Linked DNA regions of Homo sapiens: region 1 is linked to region 2. Evidence: fine-mapped expression QTL. Tissue or cell type: lymphoblastoid cells. Region 2 holds a variant in brackets; the other region holds the start of a gene. All regions are shown on one strand. Distances are between the middles of the regions.

What was found. PIP is the estimated chance that this variant, and not a neighbour inherited with it, causes the effect.
Region 1: BZW1 starts here. The variant in region 2 is fine-mapped to the expression of BZW1 in lymphoblastoid cells (TwinsUK, PIP 0.95).

Annotation. Positions count from the first base shown.
Region 1 is chr2:200,808,630-200,816,736 of GRCh38, forward strand. It overlaps BZW1 (basic leucine zipper and W2 domains 1), which reads left to right and starts at 3,281. Exons shown (of 12, transcript NM_001207067.2): 1 at 3,281-3,361; 2 at 4,579-4,652; 3 at 6,712-6,888; 4 at 7,038-7,132; 5 at 7,696-7,761. The coding sequence starts at 4,589. BZW1-AS1 (BZW1 antisense RNA 1) reads right to left here and starts at 3,541. Exons shown (of 4, transcript NR_110275.1): 1 at 3,156-3,541. RefSeq lists enhancers at 2,495-2,754, 3,603-4,118, 4,119-4,634 and silencers at 2,805-2,954, 3,485-3,854.
Region 2 is chr2:200,692,352-200,700,458 of GRCh38, forward strand. It overlaps the pseudogene AOX3P-AOX2P and the pseudogene AOX3P. Among named protein-coding and RNA genes, the nearest start is that of LINC01792, 39 kb to the right of the region's middle. The variant T/G (reference allele first, on the strand shown) is at 3,666.

The DNA of each region.
Region 1 (8,107 bases), 120 kb after region 2:
AAGCATAGGAATAAATACTTCCCCCAGCTCATTTTCCAAGGGCAACAATGTGCTTTTCAAAACAGGCCCTTGATATTCTTCTAGTTGTTAGGAATAAAAACCTATTGTCACTTGCTTTTAAAAAAGAAACACTTAGGTATCCATTCCCATCAATGAAGTTAAAAGCAGTAGCACATTCACATGTTGCACTTAGCACCTTTCTTTTTAAGTAGTTCAAAATTTTTAAATCCAAAAGTACTAAGGGGGATTCACAGCAATGGCAGAGTGAAGAAATCAGCATATCCTTTTTCCCAAAACAACCATAAAACTGGGCAAGGCTAGGCGTGATGATTCACACCTATAATCTCAGCACTTTGGGAGGCTGAGGCGGGAGGCTCACCTAAGGCCAGGAGTTTGAGACCAGCCTGGGCCACAAAGCAAAACCCCATCATCACCAAAAAAAAAAAAAAAAAATTAGCAGACTCAGTGGCTCATGCCTGTAGCCCAATTACAAAGAAGGAATGTGTTCACATCCATGACTAAGAAAGGCTTATGGGAAAAAAGCAGTAGTTGAGATAAGGCTTGAAACAATAGTGGGATTTTGACAGTGGAAAATGAGGGAAGGACATCTCAAGAAAGGTCAAGACAAGATGTGTCCTGTCTGACCAAAGCATAGAGTTCAATTGTTTGGAACCTTTTCCTACCATAATACAATTCACAAACAACGTTTCCCCTGCTAGCTGCACGGTGCCTATTCCCATGGGTGCACCCAAAAGCAGAGAAAAGATAAGTGGCAAGGTGTGGTCTGTAATCCCAACACTTCAGGAGGCCAAGGTGGGAGGATTATTTGAGGCCAGGAGTTCAGGAAAACCTTTAATCCACTTTACATTTTAAAGAAAATAATCTGCTTACTTTAATATCATTTTTAGTCAAAAATCATTTGCTACATACCCCACAATGATGGTAATAACAGGTTAAGAACCACAAATGTGATGGGAAGTAAAGGTGAAAAACATTGGTCAGAGCTATCCCTGAGTATAAACAGAGGCATTTAAACAGTGAAGAGAAATGATTCAGCTTGCAGTTGAGAAGATTGCTCTGGAAATGTTGAGAAAGGGGATAGTACAGTTAGGAAGTTATTGCAAAAGTCCCATTTAGTTAGGGGTAATAGATGCCTAAATCAAGATGGTACTGGGGAAAGATGATACAATTTTAAAACGTGGCAAAAATAGAAGATAAGCTTTGTGAGGCCATAGGCGTAACATGTCACTATCTCTACTGGTCTCTAGCTGAATAAATATTTGTTGAATGAATAAATAAGATCTTGGTGGTAAGGCGGTGCATTATAATGGTGAAGCCAGACTGCTTGGGTTCAACTGGACCTCTTCCACTTACTAGCGCTATGATCTTAGACAAGTTACCTGACCTCGATGCCTCGGCTTTTCCATCTGTAAAATGGGACTAATAATAGTGTCTAGATTACAGGGTAGTTTTCAGGATGAAATGGGGTTACTACATAAAGTGCATAGAAGAGGGCCTGATACATATAGGGACATATTAGTTATCATTTTTATTTGTGAAACGTTGTCCTTTAACAGAACTTCAGATGTGAAAAATACAGTTCTGGGGGAAGAGCAATTGACAGCACTGACAGTGTTAAATTAGCCATGAAGTGAAGATGCCAGATAGTGTGGACTGGGGCCTTGGGAGAAAGGAAGGGGCTAGACACTTAGAGATCAGACTCCAGCCACTTCCCTCTGCTCCCCACAGCCCTCCCAATCACACTAGCTTCTTGCAGTTCCTCCAACAGATGCAGTTTGTTTCCTGCCTCCTTCCCACTGCTGTTGCCTCAACTTGGAAGGGCATAGAGCCTGGATTTAACAAATATTTGCTTAATGATTCAGTAGATGATCTTGGAACTCTTTTAAGTGGAGTAAATGTTAAATCCTTGAGAATGTATGAGACTGCCATAGAAGAAAGTATCCAGAAAGAAAAGGTATCAGTACAGAAAAGAAGAGTCAGAAAATACCGTGCAAAGGCACATTCAGAACGTAACCAGGATAGCTGGAGCCAGGATTCAAGGAGAGAGGTAGGTAACATTCAATGCTCAGAGGAGGCAAACAGGGTGAAGAATAAAACACTGGGTTTGGCAATAATTTCAGGAACGAACGCTGAGAAAGTCATTTTTCCATGAAGTTGCGGGGGGGTGGGGTAGAGGTCAGATAGTTAATTAGGGAAAAGAAGTCAACAAACTATTTTATCAAAAGGTTTAGGGAAGAGAAGCCACTCTCCTCCTACCAGAGAGTGAGGAAGCAACTGGAGAGAAGTAAACTACTGTACAGTGAATAAAAACATGGGGCTACATCCTAGAGGCGCTGTGCATCTTTATCTGCACAGAGTTTTGTCACGTCCACAGTGCTTTTCACACGCACTATCTAATCTGATCGTACCCCAGCTCCCTGATGATATAGCCTCTAACTGAGGGGTTCTCAAGGTGCGGACCAGCAGCAGCATCACAGATAACTTGTTGGAAATGCACATTCATGGGTTCCACACCAGGCCTACAGAATGAGAAACTACGGGTGGGGCCCAGCAGTCTGTTATAACAAGTCCTCCAAGGGATTCTGATGCTCTCCAAGTCCCCATAGCCACCACACTCGGGAGACAACCGCTGCAGCGCGCAGGGACCGCGGTTGGAGGACAGAATTTCCCCTTCTCAATCTTCGGCCTGTGTCCTCTTCGCTCTTAAGGGAGGTAGTGAACAATGAGACAGCCCCTCAGAGAAAAGTCGCCAGGCAGGGGACTCAGCTGGAGCGAACTCCGCCCATCCCGGCCAGGGCGGAGGCGAGGTGCGGATTCCTTCCCCAAACCACGCCCCCATGCCCGCCCCCAGCCTCCGCCCCCGCACGACCCGAGGGCCCCCCGCCCTCGGGCTTCGACTTCCGGTGCTGGAGGAGGGGGCCGGCGGCGAGGGACTCCAGGAGGACGCGTCCAACTTCGAGACCGGCGGGGGCCGGCTCCGCTCTTCCAACCCCTCCATGTGTGAAGAGGGCGGACGACGCAGCGGGGGAAGAAAAATAAGCTAGTCTAGGACAAGTGTCCAGGCGACGTGGAACCCAGTAAGGGAATAAAGAAGACTGGAAACGTCTCTCCCCTCCCCTATCCCAGTCCCTCACCCTAATCCGCGCGCAATAGAAAAGGCGGAAGCGCCTGTCCACGATCAGGGCGGGGCAAGGGGAAGAAATCTCGCGATAGGAGAGCGGTCCGGGCGGGGGTGGCACCTCTCCCTCCTCCTGGCGTTAGTTCCGGTCGCAGAGGAGACACCGCCGCAGTTGCCGGTACATCGGGGATTTCTGGCTCTTTCCTCTTCGCCTTAAATTCGGTGAGACGCGGCGCCCCGCTCACCCCGGGCGGACGCTGCGGGTCGTGGACGCCGGGCAGAGGGAGAGGGAGGCGGCGGGCTGGATGCGGCCCGGCTTGGATGGGCCCGAACGGAGGTCGCCTCTTGAGGCCGGGCCGGATCTAGGGCCTGAAAGGCCGCCGCTTCGGCAGGGAGGCCGAGGGGTAGCGGCGGCCCGGGTGGGGAGGTGGGGTCCGGGTGTGCGCCGCGGCGCTGGCTGCGAAGGCAGTGGCCGAGGCGGGCTCCCTCTGGGCCGTGCCCGGCCTGGCTAACAAAGCCGCCGCGGCCTCTGTTGTGTGATGTACGCGTGGGGGCTTCCGGCGGGCGGGGCGGAGGGGCTGCCACCCACCACCGCTGCGGCCGCCGCCTCCGCCGCTGCTTTCGCTGGAGGGCGGGCGGATGTACGGGGCGCCTGGGGCCCCGGCGCAAAGCGCCTCAGTGACTGTGGTCCGCTCGTTGCGGCGGCCGCCACCGCAGGCGACAGGGTCAGTGGAGAAAGAGCCGCGGGACCCTACGGCGCCCCGCTGTGGCCGATGGGGTCCTGGGCGGGAAGCGGGTGATCTGTGGCTCGGGCGGGAGGCATGGGAAGGGTGTGGATTGGGAGACACGTTACCGGGGAGGAGGCTAGGACTGTGGGATATGGGCGAAGGAGGCTGGGCTGGCTGTTAGTTTTGCAGGCCTGAGTGGTGCAAGGCGGCCGCTGTTGCGGTCACAGGCATGACCTAGGGTAGGATGGTGCTGCCCGTAACCAGGCTTGTCAGAAGAAGGGGTTCACCTTTTGACAGTGTTTTAGAATTGGCATACACATTTTGGATGCCTGCTGACTATGGTGATAATCTCTCTTTGCGTTCTGCGATGCTTAGTGGTCGTGGAAGATGTAAGTGAATGTAAAGAGGAATGTGGAGAAAACTGAACAATTAGGTTTATGACGGGTGATCACTGTAGCACTACAATGTCGCTTAAAAGTAGTTCACAGCACTAATTTGAAGGGTTTCTTGTAGAGAGAAATGCACATTTTGACGTACATTTGATTCAAGTGCAGGTAATTCTTTGTGCCTGTATCGGGTATAATTGCCAGCTTTATATCCTGAGAGTGGGTGTTCCATTTGATTCATATGTGACTAGACTAAGGTTTGATGTTTTGCTTTAAAAATTAGTATTATGGCACTGATATTAAGGCTTTATTTCTCCTTTCCTAGGGTGTCTTTTATGAATAATCAAAAGCAGCAAAAGCCAACGCTATCAGGCCAGCGTTTTAAAACTAGAAAAAGAGGTAAATATTTACGTTTTAATGTCTCTCTTCAAACCTCCAGAACATCTTGTGTATCTTGCCTTCTCTGACAGGTACTTGCATATTACTAAAGCCTCAAAAGAAGATACCAGAAAGAAACTTGAATTTCTCGTTGACTGCCATTTCACATACACCTTTAATATTTCTACTGCTTTACTGCTCAAGCCTTAATTTTTAGTATCAATATATCTCTAAGCCGGTTAGTGAATCTTCTTTTCGGTGTGAAGGTAAAATATTTTTAAAAATAAAAATAAGGGCTCTGTTTTCACTAGCAGGCAGTCTCATTTAAGCAAACTTAAATGAGCAAAAATGTTAATTTATAAAAGGAGAACTCCTAATGTAGTCACCCAGATTTTGTGAAGATTTGTGAGAGAAAACTCAGACTTCACCCATGGAAGTTAATTGTGGAACAGGATTCACATTGTAATGTCTTTTGAAATACAGACTTAGTAGAAAAAGTATTAGAATTATATTACTATTTTTTTTTTGCATTAGTGTGTACTTAGGTGAGTATTGAATTCTGTAGCAAAGTGCTGTGCTAGTGATATAAAGCTAAATAAGACGTAGTCTCAGATATATTTTTACTGTTTTTGGTCAAAAGCATATTAACCTTGTTTTACAGGTGGTTTTGAGGAAATGAAGAACTAGGTCAGCTACTGGTTATAAGTTGTGTTTTTCTTTTTCTTCCTTAAGTAGCAGACATTTTGAGATATATATTGTAGAATTTTAAAATCACTAATCATAGGCTGTCTGTCCCCTTGTAGTAGTGGTGGGGAGACCAAAGTGTGATTTGATTCTAATCTTTGCAGATTCATTTAGATTTAGCTGGTAAATTTTCTTAAGGAGCTGGAGTTGTAAACTAGAACAGTTTGGCAGTAAAATGGGAAAGTGTATCTCTTGAATATGTGGGTTACTGATGTTACCTTGATACAAATAATAGCAAGTAGCTTTAGCATTCTTATTATTAGCATCAGGGAGAGATGTAACTTCCCCGGTTCCAGATAGAGATGATTCGTGGCCTGGCTGTTGATGGTTAGGGTACTGGGTAGGGTATACAACACTCCCTGTCTGGGACTGAGGGAGTTTCCAGACACAAGACTTTCAGTGCTAAAACCAGGAAAGTGCTGGGCACTCAGAGGTGTTTGTCACCCTAGTACTGTGTGAACAGATGTCATCTAGCCTAGATTGGGAAAGCAAAACCCTATTATGAAGTGTGTGAAAGCAACTCAGTAAAGGTCAGGTATGTGCACAAGGCTGTGGTCTGGGAGCTTTCTATTTTATTAATGTCATTTGGTATTTACAACAACTTTATGGGATAGGTACTATTCTTATCCCCATTTTACAGTAGGGGAATTCTGGCATGGCGAGTGAGACTATTTGCTTGAATTCAGGTGGTTAAATGGTGGTCAGGATTTGAATCAGGCAGTTTAACTCCAGAGCCCATGTACTGAACTACTACACAATATAGTCTCTTGATTACCTAATTTCTCTGACTCTCAGTTTTCCTTCTGAATAATAGGGGGAAAAATCTGCCTCACAAGGTTGTTAACAGGATTAAAGCAAATGCTTAATATAGTTTCTGTCATTGGGTGCTCATTAAATGTACTTTCTAAAGCTCACCTTCATAAATGCCAAAGGATTGGTTCAATTTTTTTGTTTGTTTAATATTATGGACATTTAAGGAAAAGGATCAAGAGCTCCAGTGTCTGGACAAAACCCAAAGGAATAAAATGTACCTGTTAGAGGATGGCCTAAATTTTGGAAAAGCCAAGAGGCAGTAGGAGGGCGTTCCCAGTAGAAATTGGCTTATGGCAGTAGGAACACAAGACACTAGCACATTTAGATCACTTGTGAAATTATTTGAAAAGTTGCACAATTCTTGTGAGTGGGCCATCTTGTCTTACACTTGCAGAGGGGAAACATGCAAAGGATGTGAATTTAATCTAACTTATTTAACAATTGCATCTTCATAAGGTGATAGTTTTGTGGCATTTTGGTAAATCTTTTAAAACTAAATGTTTTGGGTCCCTTGTCCCCCCAGATGAAAAAGAGAGGTTTGACCCTACTCAGTTTCAAGACTGTATTATTCAAGGCTTAACTGAAACCGGTACTGATTTGGAAGCAGTAGCTAAGTTTCTTGATGCTTCTGGAGCAAAACTTGATTACCGTCGATATGCAGAAACACTCTTTGACATTCTGGTGGCTGGTGGAATGCTGGGTAAGTGTCTGTGGTTTGTGGGCTTAATAATTTAGAAAGGTATAATATATGGAGATTATGGAGAGTCTAGAATATGAACTATTTGGCAAACTTGTTAAAATGGAGTGATTTTTTTGGTTTTGTTGTATTTTGGTTTTATCCAACTTTAGCCCCAGGTGGTACACTGGCAGATGACATGATGCGTACAGATGTCTGCGTGTTTGCAGCCCAAGAAGATCTAGAGACCATGCAAGCATTTGCTCAGGTAAATGAAACTTTACATAATTGTTTTCAGTTGGCTACTATCCATGTGGTATATTTGAGGAATATTCTACTTTTAAGAGTTGTGGTTAGAAAGTTGAAGGAATTTGATTTTAAATTTTAGGGATACTGTTCTTGGTGCAACGGGATGAATTAGAAACTTAAGGTGTGTTAAGGCGAACAAAATAGGGAAAAATGAAATTAACTCTTCTGTTCCTATTTGTCCTGAAATTACTCAATTTTTAAGAAAAATGTCAAGCTGGAAAAGTCAGTTTCGTATTGTGATTTCTCTAGTTTATCTGCATACATTTATTTTTAAAGTTAAATGAGTTGTGAGCTGATTAGCTTGTTAATCAAGATCTCATTGGAAAGTTTCATACGTAGTTATGTTTGTGTTACTGTAAGCAAAGAATTAAAGTACATCTAACCTGGACATTCTTATGTGTCACTAGGAATTCTTCTCAAGCTGGTTTAAGCAGCTCATAAACTTACATCGAGTGAAAGGTTTACTACTTTGCTATTCTAGAAATATATGAAGTTACTGAATTCATTTAATGTTCTTCATAGGTTTTTAACAAGTTAATCAGGCGCTACAAATACCTGGAGAAAGGTTTTGAAGATGAAGTAAAAAAGGTATGAGTAATAATGTACTTTGTGGAAAAGAAAAAAATAGGGTTAGAAAGAGGAATGTTAAATCCTAATTCCGCCACAGATTTGGAGTAATTTTGCTTGTTTGTTTGGGTTGTTTTTTGAGACAGAGCCTCACTCTGTGTCCCAGGCTGGGGGTGCAGTGGCTCAGTCTCAGCTCACTGCAGCCTTTGCCTCCCGGGTTCAAGCGATTCTCGTGCCTCAGCCTCCCGAGTAGCTGGGATTACAGGCATGTGCCACCATGCCCAGCTAATTTTCTGTTTTTAGTAGAGACAGGGTTTCACCATGTTGGCTAGGCTGGCCTTGAACTCCTGGCCTCAAGTGATCTGCC
Region 2 (8,107 bases):
GCCTGCAAGATATAGTAATTATTCAAACATGGCACCAGCATGGTGACACCAGCCTTGGCAAGATGGAACCTAGCTTGAATCCTAGCTCTGTAACTTTCCAGCTCCAGTTTAATTTCCTCCTTGGTATAACTGGGATAATATTTCAAGGAAATTGTTGGGAAGGCTAAATCATAGACATAAATGAGGTGCTGAAAGTTCCAAGTACAGTGACTGCACATAATAATTGCTTATTGAATGCCAGTTTTTCCTGGTAACTGATGTTCAGAATTGTCCTTAGAGCCAACTTTGGCAAGAGATGGCTCACAAAAGCTGTAGAAATTAGAAAATGTCCAAGAAATTTAAAATTTCTGTGTATACATTCTTTGACCCAGCAATTTCACCACCAGGAATCTACTCTAGGGGAGTAATTGAAGGTAAGTCAAATATTTATTATATACATAGATATTTGTCACAATGTTACTTATAATTACAAAAAAATTAGAGATAAACTAAATGTCCAACAATAGGGGATTGCTTAAGTATTTCATGGCATAACCATGTGATTGGAATTTATACTATCTTGGAAAATCTCTTTTGTGCAATATTTAAAGAATTTGAAAATAAAAATGGTTTGAAGTGAAAAAATTTAAAAATTGAGCACTCTGATACCAGATTTATAGAAAAAATGTATAAGCATAGTATAATCTCATATATACAGAGCAATTATAAAGAGTGGACGGAAATACACATAACATTGATAGTGGTTATCTCTACTTCATATGAAGTAATTTTATTCCCTTCTGTAGATTTTTCAGCAATTCTACATGATGTTTTTACATGAACATGCATTAATTTTATAATCATATGCAAAAAAAGTTTAAACAAAAAGAAATTCCTATGGATGGTACAGTAATTACAGCAGAAATACAATTCCCTCTAGAATCCAAATTTGCTTGATTCCTAGTTATATTTGAAAGGGTAGGGGGGACTTTAAAGACTGGTATAGACTGTTTACCCAGTGGACATCAAATATCACGGCCTGGAGTTACAGGAGGGTCAGGCCTCCCCCCAGCATTTGCAAGCGCAAAGCAAGAATATAAGGAGAAGACATCTCATTCTCTTCTCTTCCCACCCCAGTTCTGTTCCACATTGCTGGCATCACAGATTGAACACCCAACTCACCTGTCCAAGCTCCATCCATTCCCCAAACAGCTGCCCCTTGGCCACAGCTCAGGCCTAGGGGTGAGCTTCTAGATGGGTATCTGTCCTCTCTGGGAGGAGAGACTGCAGCAGAGGCCCACGTGGGCTGTGGAAGTAGATTTCGGGCCTTTTGGGAAGGAAATTCTGAGGCCATGAGTGCCAACAGCCTGTGGCTCAGCGATGGGGTACAGGCTGTTGGTGGAATGTCCCTTAACCCTGGGGTCTCCTTGCTCCTTGGAGATGGGCATGGTGACAGGGGGCCCAGCAACCTAGGGCCAAAGGGCAATACTGGGAATGGGCTCCTGGAAGCAACATTTGATGCCTCTGACACCAATAGAAATGTAAATAAGAACAAACTCCAGGATGGGGGCCTCATCTCTCAGAGGCATAAAAAATGACATTACAAAAAAACCTAGTATGGTACTTAATTTAAACATTACTCATTCTTCAGCTATTATTTTCCCTACTTCACCTCCCTGCAACGCATCAACTAATCATGCTGAAGTCCCAATAGAACTGGTAAACTGTACCAGCTGACAGTCAGAGCTGGCTTGGGAGGTTCTCGGCAGATCTGTTAGAAGCCATTTCTTACTTTAAGCTGAGATCTGCTGTCCTGCCACTTCCACATATGGGCTAACCCTGGGTAGACCTGTCCCTCATCTATGAGACAGCCCTTCCCATAGATGCAGCTGCTTTCATTCCCACTCGCTCTCTGCATTCATCCTCCCTGTTTCCTTTGTAGCTAAATTATCTGCATGCACTTTCTTCACCTAATGACTCATCCATTCCTGAGACTCCAGGTGACATCTCCATATGTTTTCTGAATCCATTTCTACTTCTGCTCTCTTTTCTGACCCTTCCCTTACATACCTGGTTCTGAGTTCATCGTAACCCTCACCTTACTCCACTAAACAACTCTCTCCTGACTTCCATATTAATGCTATTGGTACCCTTTTGCTTTTTCTCCCCTAGAGCCAAGGCTTGATGCTGGGCTCATGTAGCGGTCTGCAGGCTCATCTGTCCCTTGTCCTCTGCACTTGCACTCCCTGAGTCCAGACCATCTTCAATTACACTGCAATTATTACAACAGATTCTCTATACGGTCACCTTCCTTCCAACACCTCCCATGCAACCTAACTCATAGCAGGGTCTCAAATTTCCCAGAATTGCTTAGGAAGCTTCTTCAAGATGTTTTTGCCTGAGATTCCCCTCCATTTTACTGGATTAGAACCACCTGTAGTATGGCCCAGGACAAGCTCTGAACTTTTACAAACCTCCCCAGGTCATGGATGCGACCAGTCAGCAGGCCTGGAATTGGGAACTACTACATACCACAGTCAAATTCATCTTCTAGAAATATTGGTTCAGAAACTCAGAGTAACTCTCCCAGGCCCCAGAATTCTGTCTCAAATCTGAGGCCTGCTTTGAAGACTTTCCACAGTCCTGTCTGCCTCTCCCCAGTCTCCTACTAGCCTCCCCTGTGTCGCCAAGAGGATCTGCTTGACTTCTTTCTACACCCAGGGAACAGCTTCCCATCTGATTCTGTGCTGGTTCCATTCCCTGTCCTCTCCCTCCTCCCTCCCTTGCTCCTGAGGGATGGGAATGGTGAGAGAGGGCCACAGGACCCAGTGACCCAGGGTCTAAGGGCAATACCAGGAATGGCCTCCTTGAAGCAACGCTGGATGCTTCTGACACCAATAGAAAAGTAAGTAAGAACAAGCTCCCCCGGAGGAGCCTCTGCAGCCCTTTACTCCCTGGCTTCCTGGGGAGCTTGTGTTTGTACCACTCCTTGATGCTCAGCTCCTGCCACCCCTCCTTGCAGTTCATCTGTCTCCAGCTGCCAGTACAGAGCAGCTACTTAACAGCTGCCAGTTTCCTTCCGCTCCTCCCACCCCCGGCCTTCTCCAGCCAGAATGCAATTGCAGGGCTGGGCTGTCTCTCAGCACCCTGTGTCCCCAGTACCCAGTCCAGGCCCACCAGAGAGGAGAAACTCAACAGTAGGCTGTTAACAATCATGACACTCATCAAACTTTGACTTTGTTTTTACTGAAAAATTGAAACATTAATTTTTTCCCTTATGATTTGTACCAAATCGTATAAGAAAGAAGAATGTCAGCCTGTAGACCCAACCCAGGAACTTGCTATTTCCATCTGAACTAACGGTTATGTTCTTTCTTTTGATTTACTTCTGCTTTTATGCCAACTGCGAGGGAATAAACAGTCTCATCAGCCCATCTGCAGCTGTGCCTTTGCCACCTTCTGCCCCCAAGGAGGCCTTTGTACAACTGTCACCCTCAGGAACCTATGAAAAGCATTTTTCATCCCAGACTTGGCCCCAGGTGGACGCACCTTTTCCCTTATATTTCACCTCATGGAACTCCTCTCCCTCTGGTCCAGGGCAGGACCTTCGCACAGTCCATTCTGCCACACAAGCACCTTTATGAAGCCAGAAGGAAAAGCCAGGATGCGCGTGATGAGTAGGTAAG[T/G]GCGGTAACAGCCTTCCTGTCTCCCAGAGCAGCTCCGCACAGATTGACAGCATTTAACTGCCCCCTTTTCTTTTATTTTCTGAATATTTCCCTCAGGCATTCCTTGGACTCACCCGTATTTGTTTCACAAACTTCTTTTAGGAGACTTCCAAGTGCCAGGCACTGAGCTGGCCACTTGGGATACAGGAATGACAAACCAGTTGCCCCTAAGGAGCTCACAGGCCAATGAGGAGACAGACAGACCTGTCAGTAACCACCAGCAGCAGAACATGAAGAGGGTTATACATGGGACTTGCGACCCAGGCTCTGGGAGTATAGCGGAGAGCAAGAGTTAGGACACGGTGAGCATTCAGGGAGGCTTCACAAAGAGTTAAGCTGGAGATAAACTTCAATTATAAACACATGTTATCAAGATGTGACGAAGGAGAATAAATGGGACATGGAGAGGGAATTCTAGGCAAAGTAAAAGTCATGTGCATTGGTCTGTGGCTTTGCAGAATGTGGGAATTAAAAAGAAATCAAGCAATTCCAAATGATAAGGACATGTCATGTTAGAGAGTTGACTATGACACCCACATTCACCCCATAGTAGGAGGCTGGAAAGGAAGGTGGAGGCCAGGAGGTGGGACTTTAATTCAGATTGGATGGGCAGGAATTTTTTGCACAGGTAAGGGGGAGCCATTAAAGGACTTTGAATGGGGGAAAGTCATATCATATTTACTACTGTGAAAGATCCCTCTGGCTGTTGTATGGAGAAAAGATTGGGAGGAACACAAGTGAATGCAGGGTAACAGATGGTTACCACAGTGGCCCAGGAAAGGGTGACAAGAAGGAGGGTCAGGAGTGACTCCTAGACTTAGCATTTACATAGTAAGAGGCTGAGTTATGGATTCTGGAGTAGAACCACCTTTCAGGGGACAGATCAGGAATCTGGATTTTCACATACCAGTTTAAGATCCTTTTAAGAAATCCAAAGGGGAGTATCAAGTAGGTAGTTGAAAGCTCAGAGGAGAGGTCAAGGTGGGTTGTATAAATTTACATTTGATCATTGAGATCAAAACCAGGAGTACTGATGAGGGTGTAGTTGAGAAGAGACCCTGGGTCTAAGCCGGTGGAATTTCAAAGGCTCACGAATGGGTATTAGAATAAGTAGACCCAAGGGACTGAGAGTGAGAGGGTGGCAAGGGGGTGCAAGATTCAGAAGACTGGGGTATTCCGGAAGCAGTGGAAGAGTGTGTTTAAGAAGGAGATTTGTCAGGTCCGGGCGCAGTGGCTCAGACCTGTAATCCCAGCACTTTGGGAGGCCAAGGCGGGTGGGTCACCTCAGGTCAGGAGTTCGAGACCAGCCTGGCCAACATGGTGAAACCCCTCTCTACTAAAAATACAAAAAATTAGCTGGGCATGGTGGTGCATGCCTGTAGTCCCATAGTCCCAGCTACTGGGGAGGCTGAGGCAGGAGAATCACTTGAACCCAGGAGGTGGAGTTTGCAGTGAGCCAAGATCGCGCCACTGCACTCCAGCCTGGGCAACAGAGTAAGACTTCATCTCAAGAAAATAGAAGGAGATTGGTCAAATACAGCAAGTGTTGAGAGACCAAGTGGGATGAGAACTGAAAATACTGATGCAGATGTCGCTGTTAATCTTCACAAAAGCAGTAGGAGTGTGTTGAAGATAGAGAAGGAAAGAAATGAAGTCTGTGATGCAAAAAGAATTTTGCAAAATCTTTGCAAATTTTGCTGAGGGAGAGGCAATGGAAAGGGCAGTAGATGGAGGGGAACTGGGGACGAAGTTTGGGGTTTTGGCCTTCTTTATTAGTGGAAGGAGCTTGTGTAGTTTTAAATGTTGTTGGTAAGCCAAGCATGGTGGCTCATACCTGTAATCCCAGCACTTTGGGAGGCGGGAGACAGACAGATCACTAGAGCTCAGGAGTTTGAGACCAGCCTGGGAAACATGGTGAAATCCCATCTCTACAAAAAGTACAAAAATTAGCCCGGCATAGTGGCACACATCTGTAGTCCCAGCTACTCAGGAGGCTGAGATGGGAGGATTTCTGGAGCCTGGGATGGTCAAGGTTGCAGTGAACCAAGATCGTGCCACTGCACTCCAGCAGGCAATAGAGCCAGACTTTGTCTCAAAAAATAAAATTAAGTTAAATTAAACTAAACTAAAATAAATAAATTAATGTTGATGGGGGAGAATAAAATTAAAAGGCAGGGGCTGAATGTTTAAGAGATGGAAGAGATGAAGTCTAAAGCAATGATTAAGGAATGCCTTCTTCATTTCTTTCACTGAAACAATCCTTCCAATTCAAGAGGATCACCCTGTGCTCCCACAGAACTCTGTCCTTCCCCTATAGGCTATTTCCATTCCCAGTTGACTGCCTATTTACTCCCTAGGTTGTGAACTCAAGCCAGCTCCACGAGGGCACTGTTGAGTGCTGCATTCACCATTGTGTCACAAATGCCTAACACAGTGATTCTCAACGTTTTTGTCTCAGGCTGCTTACACCCTTAAAATTATTAAGGACCCCAAAGAGCCTTGTTTATGTGGATTTTAAATATTGACATTTGTAGTATTTGATATTAAAACTGGAAAAGCATTTTAAACATTTATTCATTCGTTAATTTATTTAAAAGTAACAAGAGTAAACCCATTGCACATTAGCGTAAATAACATTGTTCATGAAAAGTAACTATATTTTTCCACAGGAAAACCAGTGAGAAGAGTGGCATTGTTTTACATTTTTGTAAATCTCTGTGATACAGGCTTAAAAGAAGGCAGCTGGAATCGTGTTATCTGCTTGTGCATTCAGCCAGTTGTGATGACACACGTTAAGCACCCTTTGTAAAGTTCTGTACACTCATGGGAGAATGAGAAGGATGAAGGCAAATAATCTCTTTCATTACAAAATAATTTTGACTTTGGGGCCCCTGGAGGTTTTATGGGGACCTCTATGTATCTCTAGACTACACTTTGAGAAGCGTTGGCCTCCCCTGATGAGAGGAACACATGCATTATTTCATTAATCAGAGTTGTAATCCATTCCCAGGGGCTCCCATCTCTCTGTCATCTTTCCAGCAAATCACATAACTTACAGCAACATTTACAGAACCTTATGATAAGGCAATTCTCACGTAGCTAATCTGCCTTTAATTATTACTCAATTTCCAGCAGCCTCTCCACCATGATTTTTGTTCAGTGTTGAAATCATTCAAAGTGAAATCATCTATGAAACTGGAAAATTCCACCAAAAGATCTGCCCTCTCAATAGCTCCCACAATGAACAAAATAATTTTTCATAAAGTATTTTTGCAGGGGTATCATCAAAGTTAATTTCAGATGAATTAAGCAATTCAATTCCTACTTGAGAAATGGTTCCCTTGTTCATTAGTAACTTGCAGAAATTGTTTAAACCATTCTTCTTCCAGGTGCGTGGGACTATTTCAGTTTCAGAGGACTCTGGCCAAGAAGCCTGGTGCCCTTGGGTTCATGGTCCTGTTCACATTAACCATTTGTGTCACCTTGGCCAGCTCACTTTCCCTCTTTGGGCCTCATTGTTTTTTTCTTCTGTAAAGCTAGATCAGTGGTTCTCAGATTTACTCATGTAATAAATGTGAAGGAGTGATCAGAAGTCAAAGGCTTTTCCTTGAATGCCATATTCTTTGTTGAGCACTATAAAAATAGTGGCAAATTTAATTAGACCTTGTGGAATAGTAACAATTTTAGACTTAGAAAATATTACCTTAATAGATGATCCTGTATGGAATCAAAACTGGGAGCACAGAGCTCATTAAAAAAGAAAAGAAGAGAAAAGAAAAAAAAGAAAAAGGCTATCCAATTAAGCATGGTCAACTATTTGCAAATTGCCCTCATAAATATTTATTTTATACTTGTTCATTTCATTTTATTGTCAGCTATCACAGCCATTGGTTTTAGAGAAATAGAGAAGAGGAAAACTTTGAAGAAATTCTGCCCATTAACTACATCTGCTAATTGAGAAAAGTCCAGTTTTCAACTGTAGCTGTGAGACTCCTCAATCTTGCTTGGGAAAAAATAATGGCCTGTGAGAGGAAGGTCCCCATCGGCTTCAGTTAATCTAATGTTCTATGTTTTTACTGTATTTCTGCTGTCCAACAATAGTTAGCCTTACTCCACACTTCAATGGGGTCGAAGAGCCACAGTGGCCCATACTTCAATGGCCTCTGAGAGCCAAAAGCACTTTCTATATCATCTAGTCAAATACCTAATTTCCAGATAAAGCAAGCCAGGCCTAGAGAGGTTCCAGGATTTTCCTAAACTCACCTAGCTACTTAGTGGCCAGGCCATGGTTAGAACCTGGGTCTCCTGGTGTACTCTGTGTTTTTCAATCCTACATGGTTGCCTGACAATAAATGCACACATAGTTAATTCTCTAGTAATGTGCTATATTCATTCATAACTTA